Homo sapiens: one gene and its partners. The protein of the gene in region 3 interacts with the protein of the main gene of each other region in a biochemical or structural test. Each region holds a gene or a part of one and is shown on either strand. Other genes may lie near its edges. The genes, in order: ESR1, CSNK1D and PPP5C.

Region 1 (3,196 bases), on a different chromosome or scaffold from region 3:
ACGCAGGTAGCTCCAAAAAGGGAAGGGAGTCCTGAAATGGAAACCTGGGGTGGGGGTGGACCAATTGTTCCTGCTTTACCTTCAGAATGAGGGAGAGGTTTTTAAGCTAATTATATCATTTCAGATCACTCATTCTTCCATTCACTCATTCATTCATAAATAACCACTCTCAAGCATCCTTCTTCTCCCTCACAGGGAAGGATTTGGGCCAGGCATTAAAAAACAGCAACTATGTTTAATGAGCACCTCAGTTAGTCCTCACCACCATCGTGTGAATTAGGTGTTATTACTTATCATCATATTGTTGATAAGGAAGCCGAAACTCTGAAAAATCAACTGCCAATGATCATAAAATTTGTAAGTGGTGAAGCCAAGAATTGAGGCCAGTTCTGCCTGACCACAGTGTCCACACACTTCCTGATACACCTGGGGGTGTTGGGCAGAGGGAGTGAGGTGAGGAGAGGCTTTAGCATTCAGACTCACTGTGTGTGACAGATCGTTTAACCACTTTGATTTTAGAGGATCAGTGGTGAACTGCTAGCAAGAAGTGGAGCTTACAAAAAACAAACTCGTTGTCTTTAGTTTAATTCTTTATTTGAACATCAAATAGGTTGAGAAAATTGTTTACAGGTGCTCGAGCATCCCGCTGGATTCTTTTTCAAAGTGCAAAAGAGGTTTACAAGTGTGTTTCATTAAACAAAGCAAAGCTGCGACAAAACCGAGTCACATCAGTAATAGTATGCATCGGCAAAAGGGCATATTAATCCATCAAACACAATTTGGCATTTGAGCCTTTTCCCATAAAACAAGAGCTCTACACTGAAGAGTATGTAGTGCACAAAAAGCATTGTTTATCACCTGTGAGAGAACAGAAACTGGCATAATGTCACTTATTAATTCAAGTCTCTATAACCAATGACCTCTCTGTGAATGCAAAGGGGTCTGTGTCTCAGGCACCTGCTCATGGGACAATATGTTGTTTCTAGGGTGCACAGCTCTAAACACACACACTGACGATGGGTTTGGAACATGGCAGCATTTACATATTTTAAAAGTTCAGGCACAATTGGATGCAAAAAAAAGAATAGAAATTTTTCTTGAATCTCAAAAGACAGTGCAAAATTGAAGTGCCATAATAGAGGCAGCAATTACTTAGAAAACAATTTTAAATGACTAAAAACGAGGCCACACTTTAATTCAATTGGAAAGGAAATGCAGTTGGAAACAGAGCATAATTAACGCTACTGAAAAGATGGATATTTGGGACCAAAGTTCATTTGCTCCAGTTGAGAGTAAGTTTTCAGGGGATTAACTTGGGAATGGTGCAGTGTAATCTAGATCACGCTCCCAAGACCTGCACCAAAGAGAATTATGGTTGCCTTTTGAGCTACTGTATGACTCTATTTGCCTTTCACATAACTAGCTTCCCCAAGCAGATCTGCCTGTGAATATTAGACATTACTATGGTGTTAGTGATCACTCCCAGTACCCACAGTCCATCTCATAATTGGAAAGTATGAATAGGAAAGTATTTGTAATCAGTGTCATGCAGGGGAAGGAGTACTCTAAGCCAGTGGCCTAAATCAATGGCCATTTCAGTGTATAAGATTTCAAGGTGAGAACACCTTAATGTGATCAAAAGTAAATTATCAGTAAGTCCCTTATTTGTTCAGCCCTCAAAAGGCATGGGCTATGGCTTGGTTAAACATATCTGCAAGGTTACTAGGGAAATCAAATCAAAGACTGCACTTCCTTAGGGGTTAGATTTTGCAACCTACATTGATAGGGTCTTCTCTTTGGATGACCTAGCCTCTCATAATTGCTGCATGATGGCATTATAGAATCATTACGGCAAGCTAGGCAATGGCGAAAAGAAACACAGACCACTAGCTATTCCATGGACTTTACTGCTGATGTTGTTCTTTCTTCTCTAGAACTGAAGCTGCCATTTTAGAAATGGCTGTAAATGGAGCTAGTTGATTTGTGGTCTCCAGGGCAGAAGTGGACTCTACTGAACCCTGGTGCACACCCAGAATTAACCATTTTCCTCCAAATACTTTCAATACTCTTCTTAATATATTTGCCATTCCCCAGATTCCTGAATCCACTTCCCCACCATACCTGAGCCCCCCAGATAAATCACATCTTTTACATTTTAACTTGCCTCAGAGTGGGGGAAAGCAGAGGCAAGAGTTTTTTTTTAAATCATGTTCCTACACCCAATACCAACATCAGCCAGAAAATATCTGCTGTCCATTAGTGGCACTTCAAGTAAAAATACAAAGAGATTTCCAAAGTTGCTGGAGACCCCTGGGCGAACATTTCAATCATCTGATGTTCTCTGCCCACTTCAAATGTAGTAGTATCTTAACATGAATAGAAACACATTGGATGAATAATGTAAAACCTTCCACTGTATAATTGTTTGGCTTTAGCTGGTATTACATCGTCTAGTCCTAGAAATTTTTTTTTGTTTTATTTTAATTTTTTTAAAAGAAAATCTAAGTATAAACATTAAAAAGAACCCACTGACCCATTAGCTACTGTCCAAAAATATTACTACTGATATTTTGGTAAAAGCAAAATTAGCTGCCCTGAATAATTTTCCTTTTCAGGCATAATCTTTGCTACATAAGATTGTCTGTCATTCAGTATCCAACAATAGGCATCTGGATTAGTGCTATTTTGTCTACTGTGGATACAAAAGTTGATATGAAATGTGATCTTCATTTAAATGAATAATCACCAGGCTTTAGGCATAAATGACTGTATACATGACAAGGTAGCTTGAAAAGTATACAAAAAAAAAAAAAAAAACTAAATATTTTTCCTTGGTTTTTGCATGTTAACCCAGTCAAATTAAATCCAGAACAGAATTACTACATTCAATTGTCTGATAAACAAGCAATGTAATTTCAAAAAAATATATATTATACTATATAAGGTGCTTCTTAAACAAACTAAGGTGCTTCTTAAACAAACAGCAACAAAAGAATTATGTTCTTAAACATATCCTTAACACAGATACATAAAATTGTCCCCAAATTTAAGTGCACATAAAAACTTTTTTTTTTTTTTTGCCCTCCCAGATTCTCAGTCCTTTGGTGATCACTTAACTGGACAATCAGAAATGAATGAAATCCACTTTTCCAAACAAGACATACCAAGAGAAGCCCGAGCAGCTCACCTGGGTCAT
Region 2 (3,649 bases), on a different chromosome or scaffold from region 3:
CCCGCTGGCCCCCTGACTACCTGTGTCGGCTCCATGTCCAGATGGGCATCCTTGCCTCAACCAGGTCCACAGACCGACAGGTGCCACCTGGGGGAGCCCAGGCACAGAGCACAGCCTCACTTGCCTCTCAGGACGGGCCTCTGGATGAGAGTGGTGCCCACTCCTCTTCTGGAATCACTTGCTCTTAAGGCCAACAATGGCATGGGACAGGCCCTCCTGAGTCTTCTCAAGCACTAAGAAAACCTGATCCCAGCAGGATGGCAGGTGCTGGGCAGCCCCACAACTGGGTCTCAGGGCACAGCCTGAAGGCAGGGGAGACGCACATCCTCGCCGGTACGACGACAGGGCTCAGGCCTAGTCCTGGGCAGGAGTTGATCAAAGCGAGTCATCGACTGTTGGAATGACAAGGCCTTCTTCTCACCAAGTAAAAACCCCAAACAGACTCAGCAACTAGATGGCCTTTAGGGCCCAGGCTACTGTAGCCAAAGAGCCCTGGCCGAACACCAACAGCCCGAAAAGAGAGGGGGCGAAGAGGGAACAGACCCAGGCGGAGTCCGGGCTGGGGCGGGGCCCTACAACTATGGGGGCCTCTGTGACCTACAGGCAGGCTGCCACGTGGTCTTCCACCCATCCACACCCAGCCACGGCCAGCAAGCCCTGGGAGACCTTCCTGCTGCCTCCTCCCATCTCCACAGGGCGCAAGGTCTCCTGAGAGGAGCAGAAAGAACAGGGAAGAGCGACGGCCCGAGGAGGAAGACTGGCCGGGGATGAGTCACTGCCCACGGTGACTGTGTCTCCAGCTCACCCGAGCAAACAGGTGAGGCGCTCAGAGCAATTGAGCCTCCTGTATTCCCCCTTGGGATTCAAAACGGGAGCTGCTGCTCACAGCCACCACGTGTGCTGGTGCTGGCAGAGTCTGGCAGGAAGGACACACGGCCAAAGCCTTCCTGTGAGATGGTGACAAAGGAGGGGGCCCGCCCTGGAGGTGGGGAGCCCTCAACATGCCTCTCAGGAAGGCCCCCCAGGGTGTCCAGGAGCAGAGGCCAAGAGGCTTCTTTTGGAGAGAACACACCCCCAAACCAGCTCTCTCTGGAGACTCCTCCCTGCTGTTAGAGCCCACGTTGTATTTCCTCATATGGAAAACGAGGGCCTAAGAGCCAGCTGCGGGTTCCTGCCACAGCTCACCATGGAAGGAGACACTGCTCACGGCCACCTTGGGGGCTGGTGGCTACAACAGCCACACCCAGGTGCCGCCAAGGCCGTGTACCGAGAAAAGGCAGCTGGACTCAGGGCTGTGGCTACTCAGCACGCTCAGGACACCTTCACTGCCCACAAAGATCCCAAACCACTGGACACTTTACTTTCTTTAAAAGAAACAAAAAGCACTCAGGCCCCTTCCCTAGTCTTTGTCAGCCAAGCGCTGGGGCGAGGCTGTCCAAGTCCGGTCAGCACCCAGCATGGGGAGCACTCTGGGCTCCTGTACCATGGTTCAGGGGCTACAGAGCCAGCCGCACATCAAGACACGAGGGCACGGGCAGACCCTCCCGGGAACTGCTCACAGGAACTGATGCGCAAGTGCCAGGCTCGTGGAAAGAAGCCAGTTAAACCCTTTCTGTGCTGTGTCTGGAGGTGACAGCAGGGTTGTGTGCACGTAAGGGACCCATTCTCGTGACGCAGCCCAGACCCCTCGAGCCCAATTCATATAACCACAAAGTCAAAATAACCACGAAGCCAAAATCCCTGCATCTTTGGTCTCTTTGGGAAGAAGTTATACAAAAAGGTCTGTTTCTAGTGAAATTATTAGTGAATTAGAAACGTGCAGTAAAACCCCAATCATTAAAAGACGGCAAGTGGTCAAGAGTGCTCCCCACTCCGGCATGTTCCTGGCTAGCCAGCTACACCCAGCCCCGCTCACGGCAGCAGGCCTGGCTCCATCCTGTGATCCCAACAAACACCTCCCCACAAGCCCAGAGCCAGGCTCCAGGGCATTTCTGAACTGAGTTCCTGCTCATCCGGAAGACCCGTGGGGGATCTGGGCACCCCCCAGGATGCCTGCTGGTGAAACAGCCCTGCCCCACTAACCCTGCCCCTGTTGGCGAACAACCCAGAAAACTATTTGAAGAAATATAATGGATCCATATGGAGAAAGCTGTTCTAGTTCAAAGAGCACGTTAGCAAACGCAAAAGACAACAAAAGCCAGAGCGAGGAGAGGAGAGACCGCTGCAGGATGCTGAAGAGGCGGTGGCCGTGGCTAGGCCTGGGCTGCGCAACAGGGTACTTCTCGTCCAAGGGAAGACAGGTGAGGCCGTCAAAAGAAGGAAAGCCTCGTTGCAGGGCATGCCACCAGGGAGGGTCTCACAAGAAGCCCGTGGAGGTCCCTACGGGCCTCCATCCCTGGCCAGTGGCAAGAATGAGGAAGAATGAGGAAGGCTCCCTCGGGCTGGGGGCACCCACAATGGGGCGCAAGCAGGCGAGCGGTGTCAGCTGCCTGGGGACGGCTGCGGGCAGCGGGGCACTCAAACAGCAGGAGAAAGCCCCCACGGTTTGCTGGCCTCAGGGACCTGAGACCTGAGACTGGCCACCTGCAACCAGGAGACAAGCCCCATGACGGCCCAGCATGTCTCCCAGGCCCTCCCGAGAAGCCTCATCTGCAACCAAGACGCCACACCCTGGCGAGATTAAAAACTCTCAAAAATGGGGGGAAGAAAGGAAAGAAGAAGCCCTGGAGAAACCACAGCCCGCTCTTGACTCGGACGGGGTAGCCCGAGGCCCAGCGCCCGCCCGGGAGCTCTGCACCTACCTGTGAGGTGGACATGCGAGAGGTATCTTGTCGGCCTGTGAGGTCGGACGAGGAGATGTTGACGGGGGCCCCGCGGTGCAGCCGCATACTCACTTTCCGCTCTCTCTCCATGCCGGAGACGGGCCGGGGGGAGGTGTTAGCTGAGGACAGGGAGAGAAACGGAGTGGGCCGCCCCCGTCTGCTGCCTCTCACTCGGGGCTTTCTATGAGAGGCTGTGGCCAGAGAGGACCCTGGGCTGCCTGGACAGTCAGGACCTGGCTGTGGCCGATGGCCACCAACACTCAGATCCGGCCGGAGGGACACAAAGGGACATGGGAGCGAGGTCAAGGGGCTCACAGGGGAGGAACGTGAGATGCGGGAGGAATCACGCACACCAGCAGGTGCCGGCATTTCTAAAGGCGCCTGGGCAGCCTGGCTCATCCACCCTCAGGAGCGAGCATCGCCTGACACAGGGCACTTAGTGTCCACCACCAAGTACCCTGTTGTCCCCACCAACCCCAAGACACAAGAAGTCACCCCAGAGCCAGCCCCAGAGCGCTGGGAGGGGGGCACTCACCCGTGTGTGAGGTAGGGGTGAGGGGTGTGGGGGGAGCCACTTCCTGCGTCCCCCGCAGGCGGCCGGAGGCTGTGGAAGGGAGGCCGCGGGTAGCCGGGTTCCGCGAGTGTCTCAGCCGCTCCTCTCGGTCCCTGCGCTCCCGCTCGGCGTCATCGGCGGCCCGGCTGGCACCCTGAGGAGGCAGGAGGTGAGGCCGGAATGGAACCAGCTTTGGCAGAAAGCAACCCTAGGTCCTAGGCTGCCCCGGCCACGTGAGAAAATACCTACCAAAGGGCACTGGGACGAGACTGCC
Region 3 (3,649 bases):
GGACAGGGTCAGGTTTGTGTTTTAGGAACACCCCTCTGGAGGGGCAGGACAAGAGGCTGCGAGGCCAGGTGGAGGCTGAGCCAGGAACCTGGGCAGGAGAGGCCAGACCAGGGCTGGGTGGGGCTGGAGGGTGAGAAGGGAGTGGCTGAATCTGAGAGATGTTCAGGAGGCTGACTTGGCAGAATAAGTGAAGTGACTACCGGGCTTTGGGGGCTGAGGGATGGAGAGGAGTCCAGGATGAGGCTGTCTCAGCCAGGTGATGGGGTGGAAGGTGGAATTCCCTGGGATGGGAGCAGCCTGCATGGGGGTTGCTGCTGAGGCCGCATCAGAATTCTGGGCCACAGCAGCCATTGGGAGGAGCCTGTTGCCCCCCAGGACCTGGGATCCAGGCTCTCAGGAGTCCTGGGGCTGGGCAGGCAGCCAGAGGGGCCTGGCACTGAGCTGGCACGGAGGAGAACGGCCCTGCTGGCCCAGGCCCCTTGCTGTCTGTCAGGCAGTAGCAGGCACAGAGCCCCAGGCTCCAGGGCTGTGGGAATAACAATAAAAAAGAATAATGACAGCTCACCTTAATTGAGCCTTGTGGCCAGGTACGCTGTGGGGTTTAATCCTCCCCGGGGGCTGGGAGATGGCTAGGAGTGGCCCTGTTTGTTTTATAAAGGAAGCAAGGCTCGGAGAAGTGAAAAAACCACTCGCCCAAGGTCAGAGTGTGTGAGCAGCAGGGCCCGGATATCCCCTTCCTCGCCACGTGCTTGGCTCCCACGTTCAGGTTCCTCCCAGAGCTGTACTGGCCCTGTTGAGGAGAAGAGGGGCCCCAGCAGGGAGAAGAGAGGTCCCAGGGCTCAGAGGACTGTCCCCTCAACTGTGGCTGGTTGCTCTGTAAGTTCAGGCCTATTCCAGAAATCCTGGGGGCAGAGCCTCGTCCCCCGTCTCATGTCTGAGTCTAAGGGAAGTGTCTCAACTGTCTTCCCCTCTCTGTGGGCCTCAGTGCCCCGCTTCTGTAAAATGGGGGGTGGGGGCTTATGCTTAACCCCTAAGGAGGCTCCAGGTATAAGAGCTTGTGGGGAGGAAGCAGGCCATGGTTGAGAGCTCAGGCTGCCTGGGTTCAAACCCTATGTCTTCCTTTACCTGCTTGATGACGCCTGGGCAAATGACTTAACTTCTCTGGGCCTCTGTTTCCTTGCATCTAAAATGGGGAATGTCTTGAGGCTTAAATATGGTCCTGTTTGTAAAGCGCATAGAACAGGGCCAGGATATGGCATGTGGGTCGACCCGTGGAGTACAGGCTCCTCCCATTTCCTCTTGTTCCCTTCACTTCCTCCCTTCATTTAGTCATTCACGCATTCACTTCTTTTGCCTGCTTCTTTTGCTGCAGCCAGTTTTCTTACACAAGTTCGTAAAATCCTCACGGCCACCCAGTGAGGCAGAGCTCAGAAAGAGGAGGCTATTTGCCTGCAGCCTCGAGTTAGAGATCTGCAGAGCCGGGTGGCAGGCCCTGAGACTCCAGGATCCCCTCCCTGTGCCACTGGAGTAACAGCTGCCCCATCAGGAGCGCGGGCCAGGCAGCCTCTGGACCACAGCCAGGAGGCCTGAAGGAGTCCTCAAAGGCGCTGGCATTCCAGGGAGGGTCGGTCAGATCTGGGCTGCCCAGTTCTGCCCTTGTTTGTTTTTGGGAAGTCCCGGGCCCTGCCCTCCTGGGGCTTACAGCTCTGGAGGGACACACTCATTACTCAACAGTGACGATGAGAGTGGACAGGGCTGGCACAGGAGATCCCAGGGGCTGGGGCAGCCCAGTCGGGGGCCTGACCCAGCCTGGGAGTAAAGGAGGGCTTCCCGGAGGAGGGGACATGTGAGCATTTGAAAGATTGCCAGGAGTTGGCGTGGCAAAGAGGAATGTTGTTAGATTGTTGCTGGCCACATCCCCAGGACCCGGCTTCTCCCTTCTGTAATGTCAGTCCTCATCTCTCTCTGCATCCCTCCTTCCTTTCCCTCTGGAGCCACTCATGGAGCCTGGGACTCTCTTCTTCCATCTCTTCAACCAACTGACTCCCATCCTCCAGGTCTCAGCCCCAGTGTCCCCTCCGAGCTGCCCCAACCCTAAACACTGGGCACCACTGTCTAGGGATGGATCTGTCTCCTCCACTGGATGGTAAGCCCTGGGAGGGCAGGGCTGTGTGTAAGAAGGACTCTCGGAGTGCTGTTGAGAACATTAAAATGGGAGTGAGGGTGGGGACTCTGTGCAGGGCTGCTGGTAGAAGGACTCTAGGAAACCCTAGTCCACAGGGGGTTCCTCAGTAGCCCAGGGATACCCAGGTAGTAAGAGGCAGAGCTAGGGACTGGGCCCAGGCCACCTACTCCTGCCTCTGTGCTTACCCCTGTGCCACGCTCCTGCCCAGAGGTCACCATGGCATGGGGCGTGAGAGTGGGAGCCTTTTGGTCTTGGCCTGGCTCAGAAGGCCCACTTCTCGGCCAGGCGCTGTGGCTCACGCCTGTAATCCCAGCACTTTGGGAGGCCAAGGCAGGAGGATCACGAGGTCAGGAGATCGAGACCATCCTGGCTAACACGGTGAAACCCCGTCTCTACTAAAAATACAAAAAATTAGCCGGGTATAGTGGCGGGCGCCTATAGTCCCAGCTGCTCGGGGGGCTAAGGCTGGAGAATGGTGTGAACCTGGGAGGCGGAGCTTGCAGTGAGCGGAGATCGCACCGCTGCACTCCAGCCTGGGCGACAGAGCGAGACTCCATCTCAAAAAAAAAAAAAAAAAGAAGGCCCACTTGTCACCTGCTGTGTGACCTTGAGCACCGGCCTTTCTTCCCTGAGCTTCAGTCCCCAGATTTGGAGACGGGGGTTAATGTAGTTTCCCTGGGCTTGTGAGAGTTCAGTGAAGGGGGACCTGTGTACTAAAGCCCTGCATGGCTCTGGTACATCACGGCCCCCAGTGGGGACAAGCCTCTAAGGCTGTTTAAGCCTTGGCTCTCCTGCCTGTCAAATGGGCACGAGGGAGGGATCAAGCCTGGCTCTGCAGGTGCAGACAGGGCATTTGACCTTGAGCAAGACCTCCATGGCTTGTCTGTAAAATGAGCACCAGATGGTCCTTACTCCCGTGGAGACATGAGGATTCCACAGGTCACGAGGTAAAGTGCAGGGTACAGCTATAGCTCATCTCAAATAAAATCCGACCTCTCCTCCTTGGCCAGATGTCACATCCTGTCACTCCACACTTAGAACATCAGTGTCCAGACCTCACTGTGGCTGCCCGGGGCCCAGGGATCTGTCCCACCAGCCTCCCTGCCTCATCTCTCCTCCCCCTGCCCACTCCACCCAGCTGCCTCAGCTCTCACTGGCCCTCAGACAAGGCTCAACCACCTCTGGGCCTCTGCACCTGCTCTTCTTGCTATCGGAGTGCTCTTCCCTCAGTCTGCTGCTAGTGCCCAGCTTGGGGCTGGAGGGGTGGGTGGGCGGGTGTGTGGAGTCCTGGAGACTGTGGCCGAGAGGACAAGCCCTGAGCTAGGTTGGTTGGGACAGGCAGGAGGGGCAGGCTGAAGAGATGTCTCTGGGCTCAGGGTAGCCCTCAGCTTCCCCATCTGTGAACAGGGAGACTGGGCGTCACCCAGCCCAGGGCCTGTCCTCGCAGGGTTGGAGCACTGCCTC

The links.
Region 1: the proteins of PPP5C (region 3) and ESR1 form a complex in vitro, tested with the Homo sapiens proteins (one study listed by BioGRID).
Region 2: of the proteins of PPP5C (region 3) and CSNK1D, one has a biochemical effect on the other in vitro, tested with the Homo sapiens proteins (one study listed by BioGRID).

What each region holds. Positions count from the first base shown.
Region 1 is NC_000006.12:152,100,656-152,103,851, reverse strand, and holds the end of ESR1 (estrogen receptor), read right to left. Parts: 3' UTR 578-3,196; downstream 1-577.
Region 2 is NC_000017.11:82,246,074-82,249,722, forward strand, and holds part of CSNK1D (casein kinase I isoform delta), read right to left. Parts: exon of another isoform or gene 3,625-3,649; intron 3,530-3,624; coding exon 3,358-3,529; intron 2,942-3,357; coding exon 2,802-2,941; coding exon of another isoform or gene 2,646-2,801; exon of another isoform or gene 399-2,645; intron 393-398; coding exon of another isoform or gene 291-392; exon of another isoform or gene 125-290; intron 1-124. UniProt on the Homo sapiens protein: Essential serine/threonine-protein kinase that regulates diverse cellular growth and survival processes including Wnt signaling, DNA repair and circadian rhythms. It can phosphorylate a large number of proteins.
Region 3 is NC_000019.10:46,350,075-46,353,723, forward strand, and holds part of PPP5C (serine/threonine-protein phosphatase 5), read left to right. Parts: intron 1-3,649. UniProt on the Homo sapiens protein: Serine/threonine-protein phosphatase that dephosphorylates a myriad of proteins involved in different signaling pathways including the kinases CSNK1E, ASK1/MAP3K5, PRKDC and RAF1, the nuclear receptors NR3C1, PPARG, ESR1 and ESR2, SMAD proteins and TAU/MAPT.